Linked DNA regions of Homo sapiens: region 1 is linked to region 2. Evidence: fine-mapped expression QTL. A gene starts in region 2. The other region holds a variant in brackets. All regions are shown on one strand. Distances are from middle to middle. Region 1 overlaps ATP6V0E1 (ATPase H+ transporting V0 subunit e1). Region 2 holds the start of BNIP1 (BCL2 interacting protein 1).

The links. PIP is the estimated chance that this variant, and not a neighbour inherited with it, causes the effect.
Region 1: its variant is the best candidate, but not a certain one, in a credible set for the expression of BNIP1 in lung (TOPMed, PIP 0.74).

Annotation. Positions count from the first base shown.
Region 1 is chr5:173,031,642-173,047,402 of GRCh38, reverse strand. ATP6V0E1 (ATPase H+ transporting V0 subunit e1) reads right to left here. Exons shown (of 4, transcript NM_003945.4): 4 at 11,958-13,004. Among named protein-coding and RNA genes, the nearest start is that of CREBRF, 17 kb to the left of the region's middle. RefSeq lists a silencer at 10,327-10,396. The variant G/A (reference allele first, on the strand shown) is at 6,546.
Region 2 is chr5:173,133,831-173,149,591 of GRCh38, reverse strand. BNIP1 (BCL2 interacting protein 1) reads right to left here and starts at 5,061. Exons shown (of 6, transcript NM_001205.3): 1 at 4,963-5,061; 2 at 2,634-2,726. The coding sequence starts at 5,046. It overlaps CREBRF (CREB3 regulatory factor), which reads right to left. Exons shown (of 9, transcript NM_153607.3): 9 at 10,308-15,761. RefSeq lists enhancers at 4,329-4,398, 4,340-4,868.

The sequences.
Region 1 (15,761 bases), 100 kb after region 2:
CATTTAGGGCCCCAGGCCCGGGGTTGTGGGTGGGCCTTTGCCAGAGAACCGCTCTCTTCTACCCAGTATTTCCCTGCCTCCTGTCCTTATCACAGTTACATAATGTCCTTAGGCGCTGGCACACAATAAGCACTAGGTAAAAGATGGCTATTGTTGGGCCGGGCACAGTGGCTCATGCCTGTAATCCCAGCGCTTTGGGAGGCCGAGGCAGGTAGATCATGAGGTCAGGAGTTCGAGACCAGCCTGACCAGCATGGTGAAACCCTGTCTCTACTAAAAATACAAAAAATTAGCTGGGCATGGTGGCACGGTGGCACGCACCTGCAGTCCCAGCTACTCAGGAGGCTGAGGCAGGATAATTGCTTGAACCAGGCAGGCGGAGGTTGCACTGAGACAAGATCATGCCATTGCACTCCAGCCTGGGTGACGTTGTTATTGTTAATAACCACGGCTCTGAACTTGGCTTCGGGTCTGACGAAAGTCATAGACTTGCTCTCCAGGAAAACACACACGAATATACACACCCCTAATTGTGCAGGTGCTTTCAGGGGGTTTACAGATAGGTGTGGATCCCAATTAGGACCTGCTGATTGACTAGAGAGTCTCCTTATAATATGCAGTACTAGCTGCATAATTTGTGGGGCTAAGTGCAAAATGAAAATGCAGGGACCTTGTTCAAAAATTACTAAGAATTTCAAGGCTGGGCGCTGTGGCTCAGGCATGTAATCCCAGCACTTTGTGGGGACAAGGCAGGCAGATCACCTGAGGTCAGTAGTTCGAGACCAGCCTGACCAACATGGAGAAACCCCATCTCTATTAAAAATACAAAATTAGGCCAGGCACAGTGGCTCACGCCTGTAATCCCAGCACTTTGGGAGGCCGAGGTGGGCGGATCACAAGGTCAGGAGATCGAGACCATCCTGGCTAACACGGTGAAACCCCGTCTCTACTAAAAATACAAAATTTTAGCCAGGCATGGTGGCGGGCGCCTGTAGTCCCAGCTACTCGGGAGGCTGAGGCAGGAGAATGGCGTGAACCCGAGAGGTGGAGCTGGCAGTGAGCCGAGACCACGCCACTGCACTCCAGCCTGGGTGACAGAGTGAGATGCCATCTCAAAAAAAAAAAAAAAATACAAAATTAGCCAGGCATGGTGGCGCATGCCTGTAATCCCAGCTACTTGGGAGGCTGAGGCAGGAGAATCACTTGAACCCAGGAGGCGGAGGTTGCGGTGAGCTGAGATTGCACCGTTGCACTCCAGCCTGGGCAACAAGAGCCAAACTCCATCCCCCCGCCCCCACCACCACAAAAAAAAATTGCTAAGAATTTCAATACAAGAGCAGAGCATCAAACCCAGTGCAGGGGCCTTCTAAGCAAGGGGCCCTGTGTGACTGCCCCATGAAATTCACCCTCTAAGATGTTAGAGGTCCAGGTCAGACAGTTTTACCATCCTTTAAGAAAACTCAATACCTAGAGACTGGAATTAAAAAAAAAAAAAAAGGTGATCTCTCACAAGACTTTTTTTTCCAAGCCAACTTGCAGTGAATGAACATTTACTGAACAGCTTTTTGTGCAAGATGGTAGGGATCAAACTCGAACAAACAAGGGATCCTGCCCAGTAAAGCTTCTGCAGCCCCTGGGAAAGACAGAGTTATGTACAACTGTGATAACGGAGATAAGCAAAGGTTGCTGTGGGAAGCAAACAGCGCACACCTCTGGAGGGAAGGAGGCGGGGCACTGCCTCCAGGACATGCCCCTGGAGCTGAGCTGAGAGGGGTGAAACTTTCCAGGCAGAGGCAGGTGAGATGAGGCGATGCTTTCTCAGGGACCTGCACCGTCTATCCACATGCAATGTAACACTGGAAAATCCCATTCCGACCCCATGCTTCAGAAACGCTGGCAGAGAGCATGAAGTGCTCACCCTCCCTGGGACTTGCAGGTGCCGGCCCCCTTGGGCAACTCAGGAAAATCAAGGAAGGCCCCTTTATTGCATGAGGGCATTGAAGTGTCACCGGAAAAAAAAAAAACACAAAGAACTACCTTTGGGTCTGATAGTCTGCCCCAAAGGCAGGGGATTAGCAATTCCAACCCTGTCTTGTGGGGAGCTGTGGAGAGAGGGGAGCTGGAATCCCAGGGATGGCAGGAAATTCATTCTGAGGACATTCAGAACCACAAGACCCTGCCCGTTCCCAGGTAGTAGGTTTAGGATTCTCCAAATGGCCTCTGGCCTCATTTTCAGAAAGCTATTGGCTTCTTAATGGAAGGTATTAGAAGAACCATGTGACCTTTTGGGGCTAGGAACAACCATAGGCACTGAAAGGTTGAAGGTGTGGCCAAGAAACTAAGGCTACAAGACCGTCATCGATGGGTAAAGTGAGGAATTTTACCTCAGAAAAATGGAGCCTCAGTGACAGCCCTGAACCCTAAAGTCGGACTCCCCTGGGTTTAAACCCCATTTCCTCTAATTAACACTGTTAAATAAACCATTATAGGAGGCCATTGTTTTGGAATAAGCTCCTGCATTAGGCCCCGACAGACCAGGCTAAAAATCAAAATGGAGGGCCGGGCACGGTGGCTGACGCCTGTAATCCCAGCACTTTGGGAGGCTGAGGCAGGCGGATCACCTGAGGTCAGGAGTTCGAGACCAGCCCCAACATGGCGAAACCCCGTCTCTACTCAAAATACAAAATTAGCCGGGCGTGGTGGTGCATGCCTGTAATCTCAGCTACTCAGGAGGCCGAGGCAGGAGAATTGCTTGAAACTGGGAGGCGGAGGTTGCAGTGAGCCGAGATTGCGCCATTGCACTCCAGCCTGGGCAACAAGAGCGAAACTCCATCTCAAAAAATAAAAATAAAAAATAAAAATGGAGTCAGCCATGTTAAAGTTCCAGATCACCAAACCTGAAGAGTTTTCTGACCTTGCAAGAAATCAAGAGAGACAGACAACAACCAATTTCCCAAGAAGACCAGTTCCAATCTTCAATCAGTATGATAAGGGAAGTTCCTCTGCCTTAATCCTTTTTTTTTTTTTGAGACAGAGTCTCGCTCTGTCACCCAGGCTGGAGTGCCGTGGCGCGATCTCTGCTCACTGCAAGCTCCACCTCCCGGGTTCACGCCATTCTTCTGCCTCAGCCTCCTGAGTAGCTGGGACTACAGGCGCCCACCATCACACCCGGCTAATTTTTTTATATTTTTAGTAGAGACGGGGTTTCATCGTGTTAACCAGGATGGTCTCGATCTCCTGACCTCGTGATCCACCCGCCTCGGCCTCCCAAAGTGCTGGGATTACAGGCGTGAGCCACCGCGCCCGGCTGCCTTAATCCTTAAACCAAAAAGGTATCCTGAAGTAAACCAATGTTACTAACCAGTGACATTCCTATTGTTCTGTCTAAAAGTAACTAATATGCTCTGTTCCTTCCTTCTGCTTTCTCCAGCCCCTCTCTGTGTGTATAAAGCCAAGCTCTTCTGCTCAGCTCTTTGGGACTTACTGTTTTATGGAATGAAGTGTTGCCTGATTCTAGAATTGCAAATAAAGCCAATTGAAATCTTTAAACTAGTTTGTTATAATTTGGTTTTTTGACAACAGCTTGGAACATTGGGCCTCAATTTCTTCATCTATAAAATGAAGATAATAAATGTATTTAATAGGTTTTTGTGAGGATTAAATGAGTTAAAATATGTGAAACATTAAGAATAATATCTGTGGTCTGGGTGTGGTGGCTCACGCCTGTAATCCTAGCACTTTGGGAGGCCAAGGCGGGTGGATCACTTGAGGTCAGGAGTTCGAGACCAGCTTGACCAACATGGTGAAACCCCATCTCTACTAAAAATACAAAAATTAGCTGGGCATGGTGGTGCATGCCTGTAATCTCAACTACCTGGGAGGCTGAGGCAGGAGAATCACTTGAACCCCAGAGGTGGAAGTTGCAGTGAGCCGCGATCACACCATTGCACTCCAGCCTGGGTGACAAGAGCAGAACTACATCTCAAAAAAAAAAAAAAAAAAAAGGCCAGGCACGGTGGCTCACACCTGTAATCCCAGCACTTTGGGGAGGCTGACGCATGTGGATCACCTGAGGTTAGGAGTTCGAGACCAGCTTGACCAGCATGGTGAAACTCCATCTCTACTAAAAATACAAAAAATTAGCCAGGCGTGGTGACGCACATCGTAATCCCAGCTACTCGGGAGGCTGAGACAGGAGAATTGCTTGAACCCAGGAGTCGGAGGTTGCAGTGAGCCAAGCTCGTGCCACTGCACTCCAGCCTGGGCAACAGAGCGAGACTCTGTCTCAAAAAAAAAAAAAAAGTTAACATCCGTATGTGGAACTGCTATGTGTTAGGTATTATTGTTAGCCACAGGACTGATAATAATGATGAAAAAGTAGGAAAAAAAAAAACAGCTGTAAGCGGCTCCTAGAATCTCAGAAATGGGCAGCTTGGCTGTCAGGTGAGTGAGGGCTGGTTGGAGTCCCTGTAAACATACCAGCTGAAGGGCAGCCAAGCTGTTGGAATGAGAGTAGGTTTGATGTACTGTTGATCTGTTTATCCAGCTATAAAAGAGGTACAATATGTGTCCCACTTACTTCCTAGGATAATGTAATGTAAAATACTTAATAAGCTGGGGGTGAGGGTGGTGCCGACAGCTATCCAAACCAGGGCCATTTACAATGGCTGCCCCTTACAGAGTCCTCCTCTTCCCTTGTCCACCCTTAAGAGTGGGTGCCCCTCAGGCCTGCAGCTTAGACAGCCTCTCCTCTCACTCTACACACATTCTTCCTGGCCCTTATCCACACCCACAGCTTCCATTATCTCTGCATTGGTGCCCACATTCTAACCTCCAGCCTGGTCCTTCTTAACCTCCAGGCCCAAATAACAATTGCCCACTGGGGGTGTCCCTGCATGGACACCTCAGGTCCCTGCAACTCTTTGTCCACAGCTGGACTCCACTGTGTCCCTAAGCTTGAAACCATCTTTGCAAAGATTATGATCGTGACAGAAATCCAGCATTGCTGACTCCATCTTGCTTCTAACCTCACCAGCTGACCATCTTTGCTCATTCCTGTGTATAGGGCAAGAAAACTATGGGAGGAATTTAGTTTATAGTTTAACTTTAAACAAAGATAACGAACCTCTTCATCACACAGGGACTAAACTGCCTTCATAAAACTAACAGATTAACCACAAGGTCAGAATTATGGTCCAGGAGTCATGTAGCTGGAGGTCACAAGATTTGTAACCCCCTCAATTGTTCCTATAGATAACGTCACTATCGTAGAACCTACGGCTGGTGTTTGAGGTATCTTTCAGACCTTGTATTTTGATGGACCAGCTGGCGCCACTAGGATGGGCAACCCATAACCCAGAAACTGACCCAACTGGTCTTGTGACCCCCGACCCAGGAACTGACTTAGTGCAAGAAGACAACTTCAACCCTTTATAATTTCATCCCCTACTCAGTCAGCACTACCCATTCCCTAGCCACCTGCCCACCCAGCTTTCCTTTAAAAACTGTAGCCTCAGAGGGCCAAGCACGGTGGCTCACGCCTGTAATCCCAGCACTTTGGGAGGCTGAGGTGGGTGGATCACGAGGTCAGGAGATCGAGACTATCCTGGCTAACACGGTGAAACCCCATCTCTACTAAAAATACAAAAAAATTAGCTGGGAGTGGTGGCGGGCGCCTGTAGTCCCAGCTACTTGGGAGGCTGAGGCAGGACAATGGTGTGAACCCGGGAGCAGTGAGCTGAGATCGCACCACTGCACTCCAGCCTGGGTGACAGAGCAAGACTCCGTCTCAAAAACAAAACAAAACAAAACAAAAAAACTCTAGCCTCAGCAGGGCGCAGTGGCTGACACCTGTAATCCCAGCACTTTGGGAGGCCAAGGTGGGCGGATCGCGAGGTCAAGAGATCAAGACCATCCTGGCCAACATGGTGAAACCCTGTCTCTACTAAAAGTACAAAAATTAGCTGTGTGTGGTGGTGCGCACCTGTAGTCTCAGCTACGCGGGAGGCTGAGGCAGGAGAATCGCTTGAACCCAGGAAGCAGCGGTTGCAGTGAGCTGAGATCGCACCATGCACTCCAGCCTGGTGACAGAGTGAGAATCTGTCTCAAAAATAAAATTAAAATAAATAAAATAAAATAACTCTAGCCTCTGAATTCTCGGGGAGGCAGATTTGAGAATGATTTCCAGTCCTTCTGCTTGGCTGGCATTTTGATTATTAAATTCTTTTTCGGCCGGGTGCTGTGGCTCACGCCTGTAATCCCAGCACTTTGGGAGGCCGAGGCAGGCAGATCACAAGGTCAGGAGATCGAGACCATCCTGGCTAATGGGGTGAAACCCCGTCTCTACTAAAAATACAAAAAAGTCAGGCGTGGTGGCAGGCGCCTGTAGTTCCAGCTACTCAGGAGGCTGAGGCGGGAGAATGGCATGAACCCAGGAGGCAGAGCTTGCAGTGAGCGGAGCTTGCACCACTGCACTCCAGCCTGGGCGACAGAGCGAGTCTCCATCTCAAAAAAAAAAAAAAAATTATTTCTCTGCTGCAACACTTC[G/A]GCTGTTCTCAGTGCATTGGCATTTCTGGGCAGCAGGCAAGAAGAACCCATCAGGCTATAACAAGTTTGTTGTATCCCCTGTGCCTCCATCCTAGTAAAGGGCTCCATCACTCAGTCAGAACCTGGTGTAATTCTCAGCTCCTCCCTGTCCCTTACTGCCCCCACATAACTAATCACTCAACGGAAGTTTATGTGTATTAACTAATAATTATGGCCCCATTGTAGCTCCTTCTCCTAATTCATTTCCATTACCACACTCCAGGACACTTATCTCTCCTGGACTCCTGCAACAATTTCACAGGTCTACTGGAAATACCGCAGACACTCCTCTCTGCTAAACTCTTTTTTAATTTTTTAAAAATTTTTTTGAGATGGAGTCTCACTCTGTCCTCCAGGCTAGAGTGCAATGGCATGATCTCGGCTCACTACAACCTCTGTCTCCCAGATACAAGCGATTCTCCTACCTCAGCCTCCCGAGTAGCTGGGATTACGGGTGCATACCACCATGGCTGGCTAATTTTTGCATTTTTAGTAGAGACGGGGTTTGGCCATATTGGCCAAGCTGGTCTCAAACTCCTGACCTCAGGTGATCCTCCCGTCTCGGCCTTCCAAAAGTGCTGGGATTACAGGTGTGAGCCACTGTGCCCGATCCTCTCTGCTAAGCTCTTACTCATCCTTGGGGTTTACCCTTAAAGGTCATTTCCTACAATAACCTTTCCTCCCACCACCAGTTTAATGTTTCTAGTGCTTATTCTTACCTAGCAACCGGTACTTCCCTAAGACACAGCACCTTGCTTCCATGGGGTCCACCCACCAGAAGCACCAGCAGCACCTGGGAGCTTGTTGGAAATACAGAATCATTGCTCCCATCTTGATTTAATCAGAATCTGTTAAAACACAATCCCCAGGCAATCTGGACGTTACCATTTGAGAAGCACTGGTGTAGCATAAATAACCATTCATTATTACTGTTTAATTCTCTTCCCTGCTAAACTCTAGGCTGCAGGAGGTCAGGTTGCTGAGTCTTTTTGCTCAAGCAGCTAACATCAGGACAAAAAACAGGAGCTGAAAATACCTGTGCAACCTGGTTGAATCTGGCTGAACTACTTTTTCAACCTGTTGTTGAAAAGCATCTGCAGCTTGGACAAAGTCACACTTAGCTTCTTAACTCACCCTTCCTCAAATACAGGCTTACTTTGACAAAATATCTACTCTGCTTGTTCTGTTTTGGAGTGGCAACCCACAGTAGTACCACACTGTGGACGGTGTAAAGAAACCATGGAAACCATGTCAACATCCTGACAGAAACTGAAATGGAATCTTGATTGGATTCATGGGGGCGGCAGTATTAGCTGCTGAGCATCCTCAGCTACTGGAATATCCCCTTCTTTTGGAGCTGGCTTGGGGGCAGCGGGATTTGGGAAAAGAGGGCCAATACATTTCATTGAGATGGGAGTCTAACTGAAGCAGGGACAGCCTGAAAGAAAGCTTTGCTTGGAGCAGCTGGGCATAGAAGAACAGTGGGGCTTTTTCTAAGCGGTGTGGGACCCCAGAGCATTAATACCCTAGGCTTCCACTTTTCTATGTGGGAAGAATCAAAATCAATGCTCCCTTTTCATTTCCCCATGCTGTCACTGTGAGCACCTATACAAAAGGAGGTTAGAGTTTTATACACGGAATGATCAGTGCTCTGTCCTGCACAATGAAAACAATCACAATTTCTGTGTGAGCTCACTGATTTTCATTGATTCATAATAGCTTCAATGTTTTAATAAATCTAGCTGACTGCATTTCCCCTGACCCTGAATAACTTTTTTAAAAAGTGTGTGTGTGCACTAAATTATATTTGAAGGAAGTACTAACACTTCTGACAATGATGCCCTCAAAAATATCTTTTTTTTTTTCTGATTATAAAAGTAATACATGCTGTTTATGGAAAAGTTGGAAGACACAATATTGTAAAAGAAATAATCACTTTTGACATCTTGGTCTGTTTCCTACCAGGCTTTTTTCTATGTATAGCTGTTTAAAATCCTGTTTTATTTTTTTTCTTGTAACATAATATTCTGGCCATTATCTTTTGCTATTAAATTAACTTCCATTGTTTCTTTTTACTACACTATTACATTTTCATTGGAAAAAATGCTGAAAAGGAAAAAGAAAAATAAGATGACTTGTAATTACCATCTAGAGGCAAGCAACGCTAGTAATTTTGTTCTCTTTTCTGTCTCTTTTCTAGGCATGTATTTTGAAAACAAAATTGATTTTACTTCATTTGGATGCAGCAACATGATTTAAACAGCTCCTTACGTCGGCATTAGGTTATTTCTAGTCAACTGTACTGAGATAGGTATTATTTACAATGTTTTATGTTGCGCTTTCCTTTGAAAATTATGAATTTTCTGCAATTGATTTCATCCACTCAACTCTTGAGAGAAAGTTGAAATAAAAGGGCCAGGGGAAAAGTAACACATAACATTTGCTTTAGTCTCCATCTCCATTTTGTTGTTGTTGTTTGTGAGATGGAGTCTCACTGTGTTGCCCAGACTGGAGTGCAGCGGTGCAGTCTTGGCTCACTGCAGCCTCCGCCTTCCAGGTTTGAGTGATTCTCCTGCCTCAGCCTCCCTAGTAGCTGGGATTACGGGCACCCGCCACCATAGTGGGCTTTTTTTTTTTTTTTTTTTGAGACAGAGTTTCACTCTTGTTGCTCAGGCTGGAGTGCAATGACACCATTTCGGCTCACTGCAACCTCTGCCTCCTGGGTTCAAGCGATTCTCCTGCCTCAGCCTCCTGAGTAGCTGGGTCTACAGGCATGTGCCACCACGCCCGGCTAATTTTGTATTTTTAGTAGAGACGGGGTTTCTCCATGTTGCTCAGGCTGGTCTCAAACTCCTGACCTCAGATGATCTGCCCTCCTTGGCCTCCCAAAGTGCTGGGATTACAGGCATGAGCCACCGTGCCCGGCCAATTTTTGTATTTTTAGTAGAGATGGGGTTTCACCATGTTGGCCAGGCTGGTCTTGAACTCCCAACCTCAGGTGATCTGCCTGCCTTGGCCTCCCAAAGTGCTGGGATTATAGGTGTGAGCCATCGCGCCTGGCCTCCCTCTCCATTTTAAACACATATATTCTCCCAAACCAAAAAGAATTTTTGCATAGAGGATGGAGTATGAAACTGTTCTAAAATGTGTAGACATATATTTTTAAACATAATTTATGTTAATAAAGGAGCAATTGACTCTTGCCAAATTTTTCATGATTCTTGGCAACAATTTTAAATCATTTCTCAAATTCTAAATTTACTTCAGCATGACCAAACACCTACCGTTGCTTAAAAAAAAAAAAAAAGGCTAAACAAGAAGGTGCTACTTTTGAAGCAACATCAAAGGAAAGATAAAATATTATTAAGTTGGGGTAGTGACACACGTCTAGACATCATTATATGTTTAAAGAAAACAACAAAAACAGTGCTAAAAGAAACCAATCAATCCTCACACTTCATCTTCAAAATCATGCCAGAAATACTTCTATCCTGGTATAAGAGTTGGTAGAACCTGGAAGGGCAGGAAGGGTGTGGTCCAGCCACTTAGGCTCTGGCTCTGAACTCAGGCCTGGGGGCCTAATAAGGGTGCCTTTTATTTTTCTGTAAACCTCTACCTCCAAGTACAAATGACTAATCAAAAGTGTAACCATAGGCCAGGCACAGTGGCTCACGCCTGTAATCCCAGCACTTTGGGAGGTCGAGGGTGGGCGGATCACCTGAGGTCAGGAGTTCAAGACCACCCTGACCAACATGGTGAAACCCCGTCTCTACCAAAAATACAAAAAATTAGCCAGGCGTGGAGGCAGCCTACTGTAATCCCAGCTACTTGGGAGGCTGAGGCAGAACTGCTTGAACCTGGGAGGTGGAGGCTGCAGTGAGCTGAGATCGTGCCATTGCACTCCAGCCTGGGCAACAAGAGCGAAACTCTGTCTCAAACAAAACAAAACACAAAGAACCCAAAGTGTAACCCTACGTAGAAAAAAAAAATCACTTGGCTGTCCCTCTGGGTCCTATCTGAATAGAAAAGTACTGTCAGTGTACCCTGGGGATTTGGTCATTTATTTGGAAAATACTCTTGATGTATTATTATAATTCACAAATCACCTTCCCCGCCAAAATCTCATTTGGTAACAACTTCGTATAGTAGAAAAGGTATGCATTATCCCTATTTTACAGATGAAAACACTGAGAGTCAGAAATTAAATGATTTGCCCCGTTACACAGCTAGCGAGTGATGGGAGTAAGATGGCAAACCTAGGACCTCTGCTAATCTAGTGATTGTCCCAGGAGGCCACATGACGTTCGCCTGGAAGGGCTCTGGAGCGCAGGAACATTTTCGGTATCCTCTGAACGGGCTAAATGGAGGTCCTTCCAGTCTGGGCCCTGACAAACACTGGATGGAGTGTGGCAACGGTCAGGAAAATATGATTCACCAACATCCATCTCCGATGCCTAATCATGTTGTTAACAAACAGTTCTGCTATTAAGGGTGAGGTGACGAGAGAACATGTGCCTGGGTTTAGGTATTAATGGCACTGAACCTTCTCAAGAATTTAATAAATGAAACAACTAGGGCTCAAGGGTGAAGTGACTTCCTGAGCAAAGGGAATTTACCGAGTTTCCTCTCATAAAACCTGAGCTGATTTCGTCATTCCCACATTTCAACAATAGTATGATGGCAGGGCGCGGTGGCTCACACCTGTAATCCCAGCACTTTCGGAGACCAAGGTGGGCGGATCACGAGGTCAGGAGACCAGCCTGACCAACATGGTGAAACCCTGTCTCTACTAAAAATACAAAAATTAGTCGGGCGCGGTGGCAGGTGCCTGTAATCTCAGCTACTCAGGAGGCTGAGGCAGGAGAATTGCTTGAACCCGGGAGGCAGAGGTTGCAGTGAGCTGAGATCGCACCACTGCACTCCAGCCTGGGCGACAGAGTGAGACTCTGTCTCAAGAAAAAAAGAAAGAAAACATGGATCTTACTCCCCTGTCTAGCTCTGACCAACTGCATTAAGCTGGGCGAGAAATTCTCCCTGTCTGGGCTCAGCTTCCTTATCCATAAAATGATGGGGTTAGCCTATATCACCATAGCCCCCTTCAACTTCAAATCATCAATGTTTCATGTATTCCATGAAATTAGCTAATGTGGCCCTCCTGCTGGAAACGTAAAGCATGGAGTTGCCTAACAGACTGCGCAAAACAAAAGTAAAGAATGAAAAGAAACGAGAGCAGGAGAGTCACTTCAACTTGAAACTCACTTTGGTCATAAGAATAGCAAAGTAATGAGTTCAGACAGTTTGGGAGGAATAGAAAGTAGAAACTGCAAAACAGGAAATCCATTCTTGGCTGGCTGTCAAAAAGCCATGAGCTGGTGAAAATTTAGGTTCATTTTAATTTTTAATTTCTTAAAAGTAATAAAGCTCTCAAATTAGTGTATCGAGATGCCTGCTACTGAAATACAAAATTACTGTCTCCTGCCCCTGGCTTTTTAATCACTCTTGACTTCTTTAGTCCTATGTCTGAGGCTGTGATGGTTCCATCTCAGGAGCATTTGCTGCCTTGTTCTGCAGCTGGCAGGTAACCTTGAACTGCTCACCATGGTACCATCTTTAAGGACAATGCTCCAACACAACCTTATATTACAGTTCTATGTATACTAACCTTATCTCTCCAAATAGCTTGTGAACTTGCAGGGACTCCAAATTTACACATCTTTGATCCCTCCAGTGCCTTGGCTGCAGTAGGCACTCAAATAGTTACTGAACGATTAAGAAACGCACTTACCAGTCTTTTCAGGCATCTCAAGCTACATGGCAGGGTTTATATACTCAACCTAAGTTTAGACTACAAAATCATTTTTTAAAAAGGCATTATGTAGCGATAGAAAAGCTTATAAAAATGAACTTTACAAACACCGAGCCCAGATTTCCATAGAAAGGAGGAAAATATTTATTCCAAAAGATGGCAGAAAGAAGAAATTCATCCTGAAAGTATAGTTTGGTGCGATTCTGTTGAGATGGCTCTTCCCTCTGAACGTGCTCTCCTACTGACCACCCCACTGGAGTCTTGTTTGTCTTGCAGCAGTTTCTAAACACTTCACTGATTCCCACGTGAGAAGGCAGGAGCCATCTTCAAATCCACAGATTCCAAGGAGAGAGTAACGTATCTCTCAGAAGAACAGCATCTTCTATCTCAGAAGAGTACATAATCGTTTTGTGGAGTCGGCACAGTTCAGGTTATGGAGGCACGTAATTCACCAAAGTGCAAAAAAGGCAAAGGAAAACACGCTGCATTGTAGAATAAGGCATTCAAATGTGCTGTTAACGTTTAAGGCAGCTAATGGCCAAAACAGGCAAGTCAAGAAAAGTGGTCTGGTTTGGAGGTGATTTTGCATCTAGAAGGCATTCTCTTCTCGTGACCTGCAAAACAAAACCATTCTGGTAACTGGTCCTCATACATTCCTCAGGAAGGCAAAAAGTTAACATCGAGAAAGTTAACCAAGCCAACACTTTAAAATGCACAGATGCTCAACAAAATATGAAACACAGGATAATCAACTTGGTGCAAGTTTGGCCAGGTTTTGCAGGGCTGTGGCAAAAGGTCCAGTAACCAAGGACACTGCTGAAATGAGGAGCACAAGTAACACTCTATGTTACAGAAAGCAGGAAGAATGAAGCTGACTGAGATTGATTGTGCTGGAATCTAATGAATTCACCGCAGTTTCAAGAGTCTGTATTTTTCCCTTCCCTCTTATAGCATGGAGGGGAGGTTCCGCAGGCATGGCGAACTCTGCTCTGGGGCCAGGCTCCTGGGGAGCGGGCTCCTTGCATTGGTCTTGTACTGGAGGCTGCCCTGTAGCTTGCTCCCCGTTCTGGCTATCTCGAGTGTAGGTGACAAATGACACTTTTCTTTTTCTAGCAGCTTAAATTCAACACCATCTTTTTTTTTGTTTTGTTTTATTTTTGTTTTTTTCGGACACAGGGTCTTGCTCTGCCATCCAGGCTGGAGTGCAGTGGCGTGATCTCGGCTCACTGCAGTCTCAATCTCCTGAGCCCAAATGATCCTCCCATCTCAGCCTCCCAAGTAGCTGGAACTACAGGTGCACGCCAACACATTCGGCTAATTTTTATATTTTTTTGTAGAGACAGGGTTTCACCATGCTGCCCAGGTTGGGCTCTAACTCCTGGGCTCAAGCGTTGTGCCCATCCTCGCCTCCCAAAGTGCTGGGATTACAGGCATGAGCCATCATGCCCTAAACAGACTATATTTACAATGTACTAGGAAAACAACATCAGGCCAAGGAGTGGTAATTACCAGAGCTACTTGTTTCTTGTAGTAGTGTGAAAGCCTCATAATATCTTTCACTTAATCTAGGGATAATTTTCTGTTCTCTTCCTTAGGCCAGCAGAACAGCCTCTTTGTACAAGTATCAGTACCAGGCAGATTATAAATTTAGGCCAGGCGTGGTGGCTCACACCTGTAATCCCAGCACTTTGGGACGCCAAGGCGGGAAGATCACCTGAGGCCAGCCTGGGCAACATAGCGAGACTCTCTACAGCACGATGACACACACCAGTAGTCCCAGCTACTCCAGAAGCTGAGGTGGGAGGATCACTAGAGCTCAGGAGTTTGAGGTTACAGTGAGCTATGATCATGCCATTCTGCACCCCAGCCTAGGTGACAGAGCCTGACCCTGTCTCTAATCAATAAATAATATTTTTTTCAGACAGTCTCGCTCTCTCACCTGCCCTGGAGTGTAGTGGCCACAAACACAGCTCACTGCAGCCTCGACCTTCTGGACTCAAGCAATCTTCCTGCCTCAGCCTCCCAAGTAGCTGGGACTATAGGCCCACGCCATCATGCCCAGCTAATTTTTAAATTTTTCATAGAAATGGGGTCTTGCTATATTGCCCAGGCTGGTCTCAAACTCCTGGGCTCAGGTTTCCTCTTGCCTTGGCTTCCCAAAGTTCTGGGATTACAGGCATGAGCCATCACACCCAGCCAATAAAATAAATTTTATCTGAGAATACTGAAGTAGTGAATACATATGGTTTGTCTGTTAATTTTCCATGAAGAGCACACTGATTAGACTTCTTCATAGTACAGGCATTTTGTGACAAAGAAACAATCAAAAAAGGGAAAAATAAGCCTTCACTTTTGAAAAACCATATACAAATGGGGGATAGTTTTCACTCAAGATCAATGATACCAGTTTAAAATAAATGTAGGCCGGGCACAGTGGCTCACGTCTGTAATCCCAGCACTTTGGGAGGCCGAGGCAGGTGGATCACTTGAGGTCAGGAGTTCGAGATCAGCCTGGCCAGCATGGTAAAACCCCATCTCTACTAAAAATACAAAAAAATTAGCCAGCTGTAGTGGTGCATGCCTGTAGTCCCAGCTACCTGGGAGGCTAAGGCAAGGAGAATGGCTTGAACCCAGGAGGCGGAGGTTGCAGTGAGCTGAGATCACACCATTGGACTCCAGCCTGGGTGACAGAGCAAGACCCCATCTCAAAATAAATAAATAAATAAATAAATAAATAAATAAATAAATAAATAAATAAATAAAATAAAATAAAAGTAAATGTGCATTATGTTACATGGCAAAGGCATGCGGTTTGATTTTGGAATAAATTTTTATTTTTATTTATTTATTTATTCTTGAGACAGGGTCTTGCTCTGTCATCCAGGCTGGAGTAAATGCAGTGGCACCATCACCGCTCACTGCAACCACCACCTCCTGGGCTCAAGTTCCTTCCATCTCAGCCTCCCAAGTAGCTAGGACTACAGGCGTGTGCCACCATACCTGGCTGATTTTTGTATTTTTTGTTGTTGTTGTTGAGATGGGGTTTCACCATGTTACCCAGGCTGGTCTCAAAATTCTGGGCTTGAGCAATCTGCCCACCTCAGCCTCCCAAAGCGCTGGGATTACAGGTGTGAGCCACTGCACCCGGCTGATTTTGGAGTAAATTAAGGAAGCTTTTTTTTTTTTTTTTGAGGCAGAGTCTCGCTCTCTCGCCCAGGCTGGATGGAGTGCAGTGGCGCGATCTCCACTCACTGCAAGCCCTGCCTCCCAGGTTCACGCTATTCTCCTGCCTCAGCCTCCCGAGTAGCTGGGACTACAGGCGCCCGCCACTATACCTGGCTAATTTTTTGTATTTTTTAGTAGAGACGGAG
Region 2 (15,761 bases):
AATACAAAACCCCAATACCACAAGACCAGGTGCCACAAGACCCATCCAGGGATGGTGATATGGTTTGGCTGTGTCCCCACCCAAATCTCATCTTGAATTGTAACTCTCACAATATGTCATGGGAGGTACCTGGTGGGAGATGATTGAATTACAGAGGTGGGTCTTTCCTGCACTTTTCTCATGATAGTGAATGAGTCTCATGAGATCTGATGGTTTTAAAAACAGGAGTTTCCCTGCACAAGCTCTCTCTTTGCCTGCTGCCATCCATATAAGACGTGACTTGCTCCTCTTTGCCTTCTGCCATGATTGTGAGGCCTCCCCAGCCATGTCAGAAGTCCATTAAACTTCTTTTTCTTCCCAGTCTCACGTATGTCTTTATCAGCTGCATGAAAACAGACTAATACAGATGGGCAGATCCATGACACCCACCTCACCCTCACTGAAGGTACAGCAGGGGAAACATCTCCACTATTCAAACTGCTACTTCTAAGAGACCTCCAGAAGTCTAGAGGAGCAGGCATGTTTCCACACTCAGGTACCTCCTGACTCTCCTAGGTCCCACTAGGGCAGAGTAAGTGCTAGTTCTCTGCCAACCCAACATTAGGTCCTGTGGCTGCAGTGAGAAGAATTCCAGGAGAAAACTCAGGAATAAAAATGGAGAACGTAAGACATCAGACTGAAATTACTAGAAACCCTCAGGAAATAAAGAAGGAAGAAGAAACCAAGAAACCAGAAAAACCATCAGAACAGTAATCAACCCTTGGAGTGACCAGGAGATCCAGAGTTCCCTAAAAGAATGCAATTATCTCAAATTTGAATAACTGAAGAAGAATCATGAACAATATAAAGCAACTGCCTAGTGCTTCAAGTAGAGGGGCATGAAGAGGAGCCGGCAGGAATGTCTCCAGATAATGACAAGTTTGCAGGACTTTTACTGAACTACTCATGAGGCTAAACAGAGGCCAAGGAGCCAACCCTGTTCCTGTCCTCAGGGAGAGGGCCTACACAGGATTCCAGGATACAGATGGACAGCATCTTTTTAAGTGTGCAGATGCAGTCATCCTTCCAACTCCTGAGTTCCAGCCCTGGGCCTGTGCCATCCCTATTCACTTTGAGGGGCTGCTGTGGGCCCCTCTACCCATGAGCTGCATGCAGGATCCTTGGATGCCCAGATGGCAGCCTTGAAACATGACCCCTCCATAGTCAGCTCCATACGTGTTTCCTCTCAGCAGCCCCCAGACCCACAAGTGGTCTTCATCCTCTGATTCTGATCTAGATTCTGAACTTGGAAACAATTAGAAGCTGAATCCCAATTCTGTCTGAAAGCAACACAATAGTCTGGGCTCATGCCTGTAACCCCAGCACTTTCAGAGGCTGAGGCAGGAGGATTGCTTGAGCCCAGGAGTTTAAGACCAGCTCAAGCAACATAGAGCAAAAAATCCATCTCTATTAAAATATATATATATATATATATATATATATATATATATATATATATATATATATATTTTTTTTTTTTTTTTTTTTTTGACACAGAGTCTTGCTCTGTCACCAAGGCTAGAGTGCAGTGGCACGATCTCTGCTCACTGCAACCTGCACCTCCTGGGTTCAAGCGATTCTCCTGCCTCAGCCTCCTAAGTAGCTGAGATTACAGGTGTGTGCCACCATGCCCAGCTAATTTTTGCATTTATCAGAGACAGGGTTTTGCCATGTTGGCCAGGCTGTTCTCAAACTACTGGCCTCATTTTCATTTTTAAAAATGAAAGCAACAGAATAACATGATCTATACAGTGGTGCACAACTCTTTGCCCAGCCCAATGTAATAAGAATAAAATGTGAAATAAATAAAACAAACAAACATAACTGCTACTTGTCACCCTCTAGTGTTTTTTGAGACAGCACATATACCATACTTGAATTCAGGCATACTAAATGTGTATATGATGTGACTGGTGACTATTGAAATAAGGAAGATGCTGAGCAAAGTAACAGCATAAAAAAAAACCCAGGAGTGTGATGGATTGAGGTAGTGAATGAATGAATAGGGTAGAAAGAATGGCAGAGAAGAGAAAGTATTTGAAGTGGCCCCAGGATTTCAAAAATTCCAAGGATAATGGTGTTCCTGCCATTCACTCGTTCACACAGCTGGCAGTGTTCTGCATGCAAAAGTTTCTTGTTTTTTTTTTTGAGACAGAGTCTCGCTCTGTCGCCCAGGCTGGAGTGCAGTGGCTCGATCTCGGCTCACTGCAAGCTCCGCCTCCTGGGTTCACGCCATTCTCCTGCCTCAGCCTCCTGAGTAGCTGGGACTACAGGCACCTGCCACCATGCCCGACTAATTTTTTGTATTTTTAGTAGAGACGGGCTTCACCGTGTTAGCCAGGATGATCTCGATCTCCTGACCTCGTGATCTCCCCGCCTCGGCCTCCCAAAGTGCTGGGATTACAGGCGTGAGCCACCGTGCCCGGCCAAAAGTTTCTCGTTTTTACCTGGAGAGCAGGTTAGTACAGAGTCACCCTCCCTGTCTAAGTGTTTACTGCTCCCATCAGCTGGTGTTTGAAGAACCCAGACGGCTCTCAAGCAGAGGATATACCCAGGACAGAGCCCCCTTCATTGACTGAATTGAGAATACCCACCTGTATTCTGTGACGCAACTGTTGAAATTTCTCTTTTACTTTAGTATTCAGTTCAGTAAGAGCACTTAAGGGTCCTGAACAATCACGGATATCCTAGGAGACATTGAACAGATGAAAGGCCTTTCTCAAGGCAATGAAATGAAATGACACCATCCATACAGTGATAGAGTTGGTTTAGACCAACTAATATTAACATACTAACTATAATTCATCCTGATCTTTGCTGTTTACCTCTGCAACACAAGCAAAAACATTATCATTTACATTTTTCTCATTCCTTTTTAGATTAATGTTGAATTAATATAAAAGCCTAGAAAGAAACACAACTGCTTTGACCTAATTTTTAGTGCCTAAATTTTAACAAAACATTACCTGGCCAGTAGGAAACAGCTTAAAACAGCTTGTATGCCCAACAAGAATGGACATGCAAAAGTGATACTATCACTTTAGAACCTTAGATCCTTCCAACTTGGAAGATCAGGATGTTTAAATATCTGGCATCATATGATGAGATTAACTTCTCCAGTGTGATTTTACAAACCATTAGTGATAAGTTAGAGTGTTTATATAGACATGTTTAAGGGCAGATTTAGAATCTGTTGCTGGACATTCAGAATTACTGGTGCCAGCTTTCACGGCAGGCTCTGGAGACAGACCAGGTGGATTCGAATCCTGGCTGTAGCAACTTATGAGCTGTGTAAAGTTACCTGGAAAGTTATTTAAATTCTCTGTGTCTGAGTTTCCTTATCACAACACTACTTACCTCATAGAACATCATAGATTATGTATGTATGTAAAGCACTTAGCAGAGCTGCTGGAAAACGGTAAGAACGCAATACATCCAGCTATAATCAGTCTTTCTCATCAGCAATGACAAGAACCCAAATGTTAGAAAGAGTACAGAAGAATGCCTAAGCAATTTAGATTATGTGAAAATGTAATTTCATTTGTATGAAACCTGTTTATTTTTCTATAATTGGCCCAGAAGTTTTGTAATGTATACATCAGAGAAGTGAAGTTCAAGAAGTTTTAAATATCTGCATCAAATTTCACTTTTTCTCTGGCTTATTCATTTAATCACACTTCTTTGCACCGTATTTGTTTATTCTGCATCTAATTTGGTTTATTCTGCATCTGGTTTATCTGGGGAGCCCTATTTTCCTGCACTTTTTGCCACACCTTGTTACAAACTCTGAGTCTACATCTAATGTTTAGTGACTTTGTTGAAAATGATTATTTTTAAAAACCAAGGTTTAGGCCGGGCGCGGTGGCTCACGCCTGTAATCCCAGCAATTTGGGAGGCCGAGGCGGGCGGATCACGAGGTCAGGAGATCGAGACCATCCTGGCTAACACGGTGAAACCCCGTCTCTACTAAGCAAAACACAAAAATTAGCCGGGCGTGGTGGCGGGTGCCTGTAGTCCCAGCTACTCAGGAGGCTGAGGCAGGAGAATGGCGGGAACCCGGGAGGCGGAGCTTGCCGCGAGTCGAGATCGCGCCACTGCACTCCAGCCTGGGCGACAGAGCGAGACTCCGTCTCAAAAAAACAAAAACAAACAAGCAAAAACAAGGTTTAAAACTCGGTTTCTTTTTGCTGAACTCATGGAACCGTGTCTACACTCCCAATTCTTGCCTAAGTCCACTCGTTTATTTTACCTCTACCCTTAAATGGCTTAAGGCGAAACACTTCATTTCCTATCTGTTCAAACGGGGTAACACTCTAAGGTGTTATTCCTAGGTTGACTTTCACAGTCCAGGTCCCAGTTTTGCCACTGACCCAGGTATGCCTTCTAACCTAGGCCTTGGCGCCGTACTCGATTTCCTCAAGCATAAAATCACAACTACGGTCCAGGTTACATTCGTTTCACCCGGTGCCTCCCGTGCCAGGTGGCCTTGGATGCCAGGAGAGCTGGCCAGCAGGGGGCGGGGCTAGCTGCCTCCCGGACGCTACCAGAGGATGCTGAAGCAGCGTCAGAGGGCGGGGCCAAGCAGGGTGACAGGTAGGTTGTGAGGTAGTCAGGGGCGGGGCGACGACCAGGGCTGCAGGTGGAAGGGGCAAAGCCGAGCCCCGAAGCAGTAGCTGAGTCAGGGGCGGAGAACAGTGGGGTGCTCTGGGGATGGGAGATCCGGCGGCACCCGGAAAAAGGATCAAGGCCAGCAGTCACCGGGACACAACCAAATGGGGACCGGGGGGGTAGCCGACCATGGGGCGGAGCCTGTGGTCTGGGAAACCAAGTGGGGAAAGTTCGGGAGTGACACTGCCAAGCTCACAGACCAGCAGAGCTTGGGTTAGGGCTGCTGGAGCCCGGCAGGGGTCCCGGGATCAGTACCTGAATAAGCGCCTTCACCTCCAGGTCAAATTTGACAATCTCTTGGTTACAGATCCGGACGTGGACGTCTTGGGGAGCCGCCATGTTGGGGACGCCGGCTACGGGCAGCGGCAGGACCCAAGTTCAAACGCGTTTTCGCACCACCTTCTTTCCCTCCCCACCCAGTCTCGGGGCAGCGCCCCCTAGAGACCGGCGAAAATGGCAAGCGAGGGTCACTGCGCAGAGTTGGGACTTTCCCTGACACGTGTAGGGAAATCAGCCTCTCCTCTTGGTATGGCCCTAATAACATGGAGAGGAAGGGAAGAGGGAATATCAAGAACGCTTCACAGTGGTCTCTTTCCATCTTCCTTCTGTCAGGCATTCTAATAACTATATATTTTTTACATAGAAAAAAAAAGACTGGAAGAAAAGTATCAATTGAGATGTCTCTGGAAAGTACCAGTAATAATTTTTTGTTTCTTCAAACTTTCTTATATTTTTAATATTTTCTACAGTGAGTATAAATTGTGGAGTAAAAGAGGAAATGATAAACGTCATATATTTTTTAAAGTATGGAGTTCAAGGCAGGTCGGTAGAGTACCTCCTATCACTCCAACACATGATCTAAGGGATCTTTGTAAAACACGAAATTGATCAAGTCACCTACCTGTATGCAGCCCTTCTATGGCTTCTCGTGTTTCCCTTTTGTATACAACTGGATTTATTAAATCTACCTTGCTAAGGTAGTTTTGATGGAAATGTCAGAGCAAACCCTCAACAAATGGTGGCTCTTTTATTTTTGTTAGTAAATAATCCAAGTTTCTTAGCTGGTCCTCAAGGCCATCAGCCACCCCGGCCATCAGCCACCGCACCCTGCGCCCTTCCTGGATTGCTCAAGCTCCTTCTGGATGTGTAGCCTTAGAATGTGGTGTTCCCTCTCCCTAGAAAGCGTTTCCCCCACTCGACCCCACTCCATCTGCATTTGTTCGGGTCACTTCAGCAAGCATAGATTGTGAGGACCTAAAGGCTTAGGACTTGAATGTTCATCTCTCTCTCTTTTTTTTTTTTTTTTTTTGTGGCGGAGTCTCGCTCTGTTGCCCAGGCTGGAGTGCAATGGCACAATCTTGGCTCACTGCAAACTCTACCTCCCAGGTTCAAGCAATTCTCCTGCCTCAGCCTCCTGAGTAGCTGGGATTACAGGTGCGTGCCACCATGCCCAGCTAATTTTTGTATTTTTCATAGACACGGGGTTCACCATATTGGTCAGGTTGGTCTCGAACTGACCTCGTGATCCACCCGCCTCGGCCTCCCAAAGTGCTGGGATTACAGGCGTGAGCCACTGTGCCCGACCATGTTCATCTCTCTTAATCCTCACAACCACCCTTGAAATTGTACTACACTATTATCACAGATCAGGAGTAGGGCTTAGAGTAAATTAAAACAAAAAACAATCAACCCTGTTGCAAGATTACCTATCTTGAAAGTGGCAAAGCCTAGGCCGGGCACGGTGGCTCATGCCTGTAATCCCAGCACTTTGGGAGGCCGAGGCGGGTGGATCACGAGGTCAAGAGATCGAGATCATCCTGGCTAACACGGTGAAACCCCGTCTCTACTAAAAATATAAAAATTAGCCGGGCGTGGTGGCGGACGCCTGTAGTCCCCGCTACTTGGGAGGCTGAGGCAGGAGAATGATGTGAACCCAGGAGGTGGAGCTTGCAGTGAGCCGAGATCGCCCCACTGTACTACTCCAGCCTGGGCGACAGAGCAAGACTCCATCTCAAAAAAAAAAAAAAAAAAAGAAAAAAGAAAGAAAGAAAGTGGCACAGCCTCTACTGAAAGCCATCTTTTCCCCAAAAAATCAATATGGTCCCCACCTGTTGTAAGCGGGGCTATGTGCTTGTCTGTGTCCCTACAGCCCTCTACACACCCTCTCGTAAGGTATTCATCACCCCACTGCACCTAATAGAGAGGCAGTGTATCACAGGCTTGGCATCTGCCTGGGCTCAAATCCTGTCCACCACACACTTCGCATGCCTGTGCCTCTGTCTCCTCGGAAGCTAACTGGTGATAATCAATTGCGCCTACTTCACAGGTTGGAGAATTAAATGAGAAAATACATGAAAAGCACCAAGCACAGTGTGCTAATGTGGCATATAGTAAGATCTCAATGCCCGTTAGCTGCTGTTATTCTACTACTAGCCCACATTTTGGGAGCACTTCCTATGTGCCAGGAACTTTGTACTAAGCGCTTCATGTGTGTCTCGCTTAACTCTTACAACAACTCTGTGAGGTAAAAACGGGGCAGAGAGGAATAATGACTTGCCCAGAGCAAATGGAGTTGCTAGGTCAAAGGATATATGCATTTAAAAATTCTGACATATTACCAAATTGCTCTTCATAGGGATTATGTCAATCCATACTCCCTCCAGCAACATGGCATAAATGCCTGTTTCCCGTGGCCTTGTCAACAGGATAGGTTAACAAACATTGGAAGTTTTGCCAATCTGATTAGGTAGAAATGCCTTCTTTAGTTTATGCTTTTCTGATCATGAAGGAGGCTGAGAAACTCTACCTATGCTTCAGAGCTATTTGCATTTATTCTATTGTCTGCTCATTGTTCTATTGGGTTGTTGGTTTTTTTCATATCCGTTTCCAGGAACTCTATATATTAGGAGGATTAGTCCTTAGAGATGAGTTTCAAAGCTTTTCTATTTTCATTTTTTTTTAAAGACATCTACAGCCTTAAAAAGTCTATAGAACTTTGATTTAGCTTATGGTTTTTGTTAATCTTGTTTTACATTGAATTTATCAATCTTCGTTTATGATTCCTGGATTCGTGGTCCAAATTACAGGGATTTAAAGGGATTGCCCACATTTCCTTGTAGTGTTTTTATGGGTGGTTTTTTGTAGCTTTTTTTTTTTTTTACACTTAGATCATTATCTATTTTGAAATATATGTTGGCTTATGGTGTGAGATATAGACCCAATTTTACTTTTTCCGGAGGTTACTTAGTTATTCCAATACTATTTAATGAAGAGTCTACCTTTTGCTCACTGGTTCTGGATGCCACATTTGCCATACTAAATTGTCGTATATGTTTGAGTCTACTTTTAGACCTTCTATTCTGCTTGACTGGCCTATTCATGTATCAAAATTAGTTTTAACTATTATGGTTTTATAACGACTTTTAGTATCTGCTAGGATTAAATAACTCTTCCCCTTGTCCCCTGCATCACTGCCCCCTCAGCCCCACTGCCTACCAGCATCTTCCAGCTATTTTATCCCTGTGTAAACTTTTTTTTTAAACCCTCTTGGTATGTTTTCTTAGGATGACATTTTTTAGCAATATTATATTTTTAATTTAACTTACCACTGTTAGTTCTATGTCACTGCTCCTGTGTAAGAACTTGGTGTATCTTTCAATTTATTCCAGTTTCCTTCTGTGTCCTTCACAGTACTTTCAAAGTTTTCTTTATCCTAGGCCTTGTATACATTTTCTGTTAAGTTTATTCCTGGTAATATTTTCAGGTTAAAACCTTTTAAAGAAACTGAGGTTTACTTTCTTCAGGTCACTCCAGTGTTTTGGATACTCACATAGAAGCCCCCTGTTTAGGACAGCAGAGAAGCCCCAAAGCCAGCAGCTGGCAGACCTGCAGACGTGCCCTTGGGACCCCGTTCACATCATGCTTCTTGTTGAATATTCATATGCAATCAACAGTCCCCAGTTGCATCTCTTATGCTGCAGCTAAAGAAGAAAACATAAGCTCCCTTTTTCTCTACCCTCCAATATACTTCCTTCCAATAAGGGGACCCAATCCTAAACCTTAAGCTAGAGGCCATCTTCGAGGAACAGATGTGCAGTCTGGTGATCATTACACGCAATCACTGATTCCTCTCAACTCTGTTTTGCTTCCCCTATCACCTTTACCCACTGATCCTTAGACTAGCTTTTGTTTATCTGCTAGGTTTTGGCTTTCTTTTTGGTTTTTAGATTCTAAGGCCTTTATCCCCCGCTACAGAGACATCCTTCCAAATATTGCCTGTGACTTGACCTGATCCCAAAGAGATGAATACAAATTATTTCTGTAGTGCAGCAAGCCGACTGGAGTTGAATTGGAGCTCTATAATCATATAAGGTAGGTCTGGGGCTAGTCTCCTCATCTGAGTCTTGTCTCCTGTAAAATGAACATGACCACCAGCCTCATTGGGCGCTTGAGAGTAGCAGCTGAGTTTCCTGTAACAAAAAAGCACCTAGCAGAGTCTTAAGGAATGCCACTCCCTCCCCTAGGGCTTTCTAACACCTTCTTCCTGCTCTGAACCTTTTAGCTGGGATATTATAGCATTTCCCAGCCATTTTCTTTCTTTCAAATTCTCCACTGTACTGTGGCTAAACAGCTCACCAGCTGAATGACCCAGCTAACTGGATGCTATCCACAGGTTTAGTTTCCTAAGGACTATACTGGTCTGGCTCACCCAGCCCTTTAACAGTCTCAAGATCTTGACAGAGGATCCTGTGAGCAGTGGTCTTTAGAGATCAAGTCCTGATGCAGAACCAGTCCATGGGAGGCCATGCCCCTCCCCTTTGCTTCCTGATGGCCTTAATGTCACTCACATGAAACAAAGAGGGTTTCTTCAAGGGTCCAGGATACTAAGAACCCAAGTCTATCAATTCTCTAATACACCACTGGATGTGTCCATGAAAACACCTCAGCAACAATAATGTGCCTAGAGCCCTTTGCATATCTGTAACAGCTCCTGTGTTGTTCTGCAATCCTGTTCACATGCTGGCTCTGAGTTCCTGGAGTTCTCTTTCATCTCTCTATTGTCCAGTACCTAGCACAGGTCCTGGCAGAGTAAGTGCTCAACAAATATTTGCTGGCTGACTTTCAGCCACATACTCTGATGGAAGCCTTCACTTAGGTCTCTGGATTTAAGCCTCTATATATACGCCCAGCTTAGTTTGGAGACTTACTTAGAGTGATTAAACACACAAACACATACAAATGTTTAAATCAGGAGAGACCCAAAATATTTTATTTCCCATGCAGAACACTTGCCCAAAGATTAAAAGAGGAGAAATAAGAATATCCTCTAAGCTGTGAAGAATGCAAATGCTTACATCAACAAATAATTCTATATAATAGCTAAATGTCACTAAAATATTGAAAAATCAACCTATAGTGTCAAAAAAATGTTAGCTCTTTGATTATTACCACGAGAGGGGCAGCAGACCAGCAGTTCACCACTCTCTGTGATTTGGAATTTCTTTGGAATAGGTTATCTTGAGGAGCGGATGGTTACCTAGGTAAGCAAGATATAAGTACAGAAAGGAAGGGCGAAAACATGAGGCAAACAATTCAGAACGTTTTCTTTTCATCTTTTTTTATTTTAAATTACAAAGGATGTTGCATACACTGATGAATCTGTATCTGACTAGAAGTGCTCAGGGGTTGGAAGGTGACAGAAAACAAAGGCAAAATTTGCATTGCCTTTCCATCTGAAATGAAAAACTGCACAACTATTAACCAACATTTAATAGGATAATTTTTAAACAGCTCATGCGTCAACAAGATAAAGTTCTTTCTAGACAAGAGACAAGACTGAATCCAATAAAAAGTGTCATAGCTCCAGTTGGGAGAGAAAAAAAAAAAACTACAGAATATTTATGATAGCATTACAAACAGGATCCTACGCAACTATGCAAAAGAGGTTGCCACATTGTATGAACAAATGCTTTGAATTCTTGCCCTTCCACTCTTCTCTTGTGACTTCTGTGCTGTCAGCCCTAGTATCGCTGTCAACCACAATACTAAGCTGTAGGACAAATCCTAGGGAAAGAAGGTAAAAAAGCAGGCAGTGGAATACAGTGTCATAAAAATGTGGTGGAAAGGCAGATACAGTACACACATACACATTTCTGTTATTTGGTTCTGAAAAAAACAAAGGGCGAAGGGCAAGACATAGTAATCAGTCCTGCTCCTATCCACCCAGAATTTAATTAACTACACCATTGTGTTTACATTGTTATGAAAGAGGCAAACCGAACCTAGTTCACCCAAACTTGGCACATTGAAATACCCAACTTTGATGTTCTTCACTAGTTACCAAGTCTTCAATTCCAAAATACTGTTTGGAAGTAGTTTTAAGGCTCTGTCCCCTCACTACTACCTCCAAAACTCTCTAAACAAAAATGGCAATTTGGCCTAGCTCAGTTCCTAGGTGTAATTTCTACGATTTCAGTCAGTTTATTAAGCATGAGGACTATGCTTCAACACATAATCCCATTTGCCTATGGAAGTGTATAACTTTCAGTAGTACATTTTCATCATCTTTCCCCAACATGCTTATTCCTTAAAACGAAACCACCATTCCTACAGTTGACATTCATTGTTACATCCCAATGTGTTTGAAGTATTAAAAAAACATGGAGTCGTCTTCTCATAATGCCCTTATTAAGATTACAAAGATTACAAAAGAATCCACAAGTATTACGGCACTGTGTGAGACTTATTTGTCATGATCCAAGGGAAGAACAAGACTGCAGTTCTGTGCAAAGTTGTGGAAATGGCCTCAGTTCCATGGGAAATGGTATTCCACAACAGACTTCACTAGAAGGATAATTGAAACCTTTTACTTTAACACTGAAAGCATAATTCAATGCATTCTCAAAATTCAAGTTTCAAGATATGGAGAGATGCTAACATTCTGTTACATAATTAACTAGAAAATACTTGAACAGAATTTTAGGAAACTATATAAAGAAAGGGAACATAAGTTTTTGTTAATTCTTGCTGAAGGCAACTTGAATTCATTTCTTATAACATTAAATCTTAGCAGCTAAATTTTTTTAAATGTGTGGAATAAAGAAAAGCACATCCATTCTTGACATTTTGGTGAATAAACTAACAGCTTTATTAATGAAGGCAAACATCAGATCATTGTATGAATATTATATATATATATAAAAAGAAATCCAAACTAACAGCATTGTATTTCAAAAGTACTGTACTTCTGTTTCTTTTAAAGAGACTTGTCATCTGTTTTTATAAAACAAAATGGGTACTCTTCTCCTAAAAAATCCTGGAAAAATGAAATAGTCAATTTCAAGCTGATGAATTGAACACACCTTTCTTTAAATGCAGACTATTGCTAGGAAGCAAATAAAGTCAAGCATCAGAAAGAAGATGTATGAGAAATGCATGAAAGTCAGAGAAAAGGGATGTAGTGAAATTACTGCTAATCTTTCCCCCCTATATTCAAAGACCATCCAAAACTGGTCTTTCATACAAATATAAAATAACTATAAAGAGAGGGAATTTGAAACCATACCCATCTGAAATCCTTCATGATGCTTTTGTAATAGTTCTGATTCTCTTACCAAAAAGGTCAAAGTTAAAGATGTAGGAAGTGGAAGGGAATGAAGACGTTTAGTTTTAAATGTACAAGTAAGGCACAATATAAAGCCACATCATAATCTGTCATGAAGGATATAGGAAAGGACAAGAATCATACATGGTACAGTAGAACAAGCAATTATATTGACTGGAAAAGTGTGGCACCCAATTCAAAACTCAGACAAGATCTTAACAAGAGCGACTGGACAGCATGCTTTCATATGGAGACAAACTCTATAAAGAATCCAGTGTATCTGAAACTAGGAAAAAAGGTTTTTGTTGGTTTTTTTTTTTTTTAAATCATAGTAGTACTAGAGTCAAAGTTTATAATTGCTTTGGAACAATGGGTTTACTTGAGGTGAATTCACAATGCCTTCACTTAAAAGTAAGATTCTGGACTTCATTATGAGCTATCTGTATACCATGTATGAACACAGAAAACCTTTAGAGAACTCTTCTCTAATGATCTTCACCCAAAAATACATGCCACAATTTTCAAAAACAGAACATGTACAATTGTTGGGGTTTTTACATTACCCTTATAAGATTGGTTTGTGTGATACACTAAACGTATATATTTTAATGACAATAGAGGAAGCAGATTATTACTGGCATTAAAGTACAACCATTTCTAGACGGTTTTAAATGCCACAGAGTCCCCTGGTTAAAATGTAAAGCTGCACAGCTTGCCTATGTCATCTTTATGATAAAGTTAAAACAGCAAGAGGATTTAACTTTCACTCTACATTTTACTGCCAGGTTTTTATATAGATCAAGTATCGCTGCAGCATTCTGACCAGCCCAGATTTAGCAGCAAATGGCAGGAATCATATAAAATGCAATTTTTTTTTAACAAAGTGCTTTTCTAAGATATACATACATATATAAATAGGTACAAAATAAAGTGTCAACATTAAAAAGCTCAACTATTTAAAAGCTTTTAACTATTTAACTTAAGTAGTACATATAAAACACTGAAACTCAAAGATATGGAATCTACTAAACAGATTCAAAGTCTTTTTTTTTTTGAAATGCAAGACCAAAAAATCAAATTCTGGTTTGCAGACAGGAAAAAAGTATCAAAAACCAGAATTCCTAACAGAGCAGCTAGAAAGGGGCAATTTTATAAACCTTATCAGCTGAATATCATGAGGTGATTTTCACCTGATTGCAAAACTGCCATAGTTTGAAACACTTTTCAATTTACCAGACACACTCTGTCAAGACTTCATATACTTCCAACTTGCAAGCCTGTGTTTTGCCTTCTCCAACCTAAAAAGGAAAAGCTTTAAACGATGAACTTACATTCTATTAAACCATCAGACTTGAGCTTATCATCTGTTTAGCGTGAATGTACAAACCAGGTACATTTCCACCAAACACATAGAAAAATCTTGTGCATCACAGTTCAGCTAAGGTGGTAAGACAATCCTTACAATCCTCCTTGGATTTCTTTTTTAAGATGTCAAAGAAGCAGGTAAGCAACATTGTTCATTTGTTACTGGGTGTTCTAGATCAAACCTTCACAAGCTATATATATAGCTTCATATGCTATAGCTTACAAATGGGGTAACAAAGTAAAAGAAAAGAACAAATTATACTTTGACACTTTATAGTCAAAGTATAATTAAAAAAGAAATCCTACAGTGGGTAATGGAGAAATAGATAATTTTTCCAGCAGCTATGCCTGAAATTTTTGGTATTTTTTTCCTTGCTAAATATGCTTTTTTTCTTTTTTTAGTTTTTAAGCCACCAGTTTTCAGAGTTCAAAGCACAAGATTTGAGAATAAAACAGTAAGAGAGACAGGATGGAAAAATCTGTGGGGGAAGGTTTATAATGCTGCCTTGACATAAGAAATTTCTCATCAAGAGGTAAAGCTTGAACACAGTTAAAACACTGACTAATGAAGCTGTTTTATATGAGCAAAAAAGAGCACCTAAAAACTAAATGTGTTAATGTTTCTCAATTCTAGAAACTATAGAAGAATAAGTCACATGTTAAGTTTGAAGAAGCTAGTTTGAAAATACCTGTACAAAAATATAAAAATCTATAAATTGTTTTTGTTTTAGCCTGTGTTGATCTTTGAAAATATTACATGCACAATAATACATCAATCGGAAAAGTGGCAACTAAAGAATTAGATATTTTTAGCTTTTTTCTTTCTTTACATATATATATATACATAATACAATAAAAATAATCTATTTTGTTGTCTGGTGGAAGTATACTACAATAAGCTAAATAAACATTTTAATTTTCAAAGTCAAAAACTATTTTATCAATAGCTTACTAAAATGAAATATATTAAAATTTCCTACAATAAGTGCAGAAATAAAAGACATCTAAATGGCCACCAACTTATCTACTATGGAAGCGAACTAGAGGAACAGCAAAATAATATTTGTATGTATGGATGCTCCTTCTGTAGATAATTGGACCCAAACAGAAATAAAATTCACAGTTCAGTAAGATCCCTAACCCTGACCTTTTTTTTTCTTTTTTTTCTCCTTTTTTTTCATACATTCATACAGTATCATGTAAGCTGTGCAAAACTTTACTTAGACTGGCAGTTTGCCATATCAGTTGCATTTGTCTTTGGTACAAAAAATAAAACAATCGCAATAATGTGCAAGTATTTGTCTTCTTCCGGTCAAGTACCGAAATATGAGTTTTCTAGAGCCATCTTTTTTTTGTTGTTTTTTGTTTTGTTTTTTATACAATACACAGACTCTGTGGCATATATCTACATTTCAACATAGTCCTATATACATTCAAAAAATCTGAAAAAGAGTTGGAACAAAAAAACATTTAAACCCCATAATTTTTCCATCTATATATCTTGTTTTTTCTCATTAGGGTTTTCATCATACAAAATATTACCAGTTTTAGAGTTTCCCCAAAATACAAGGCACAAAGAATATGCTTTTTTTTTCTTACTTGCACAGACATTTGTGTGTGTGTGTGTATATATATATATATATATATATATTTATATATATCATCTTGAGCTCTGACAATGAACATCTAATATGGCCCACAGGCACAAGTGCTGGGTGTGCCATATACAAGTGAGATTAATGGTTGTGGAAAATTAGAACAAAAAGCAATAATTCTAAAAACAATTTAAACCGACTGTTTAAAAAAATGCTTCCTCAATTTTTTTGTGTGGTTCAGAGCATAAATCTGCCACAATACTTGGCATTTTACTATTTCACTCCTCCAAAATGTTTTGCTTTAACAGATTTTTGTAATCTGTACCTAACATTTACTTAAACATATGATTTTCAATTCTGATGCCAGTAGCAGTTTTAATCATGGTTTATGCTCTGAAAATGCAATAATCAAGTATTTTGGATCATGCTTCACTTATGCTACTTAGTTCTTAAAACAATGTAACCTAATTGTAAATGTTTACATAATGCTA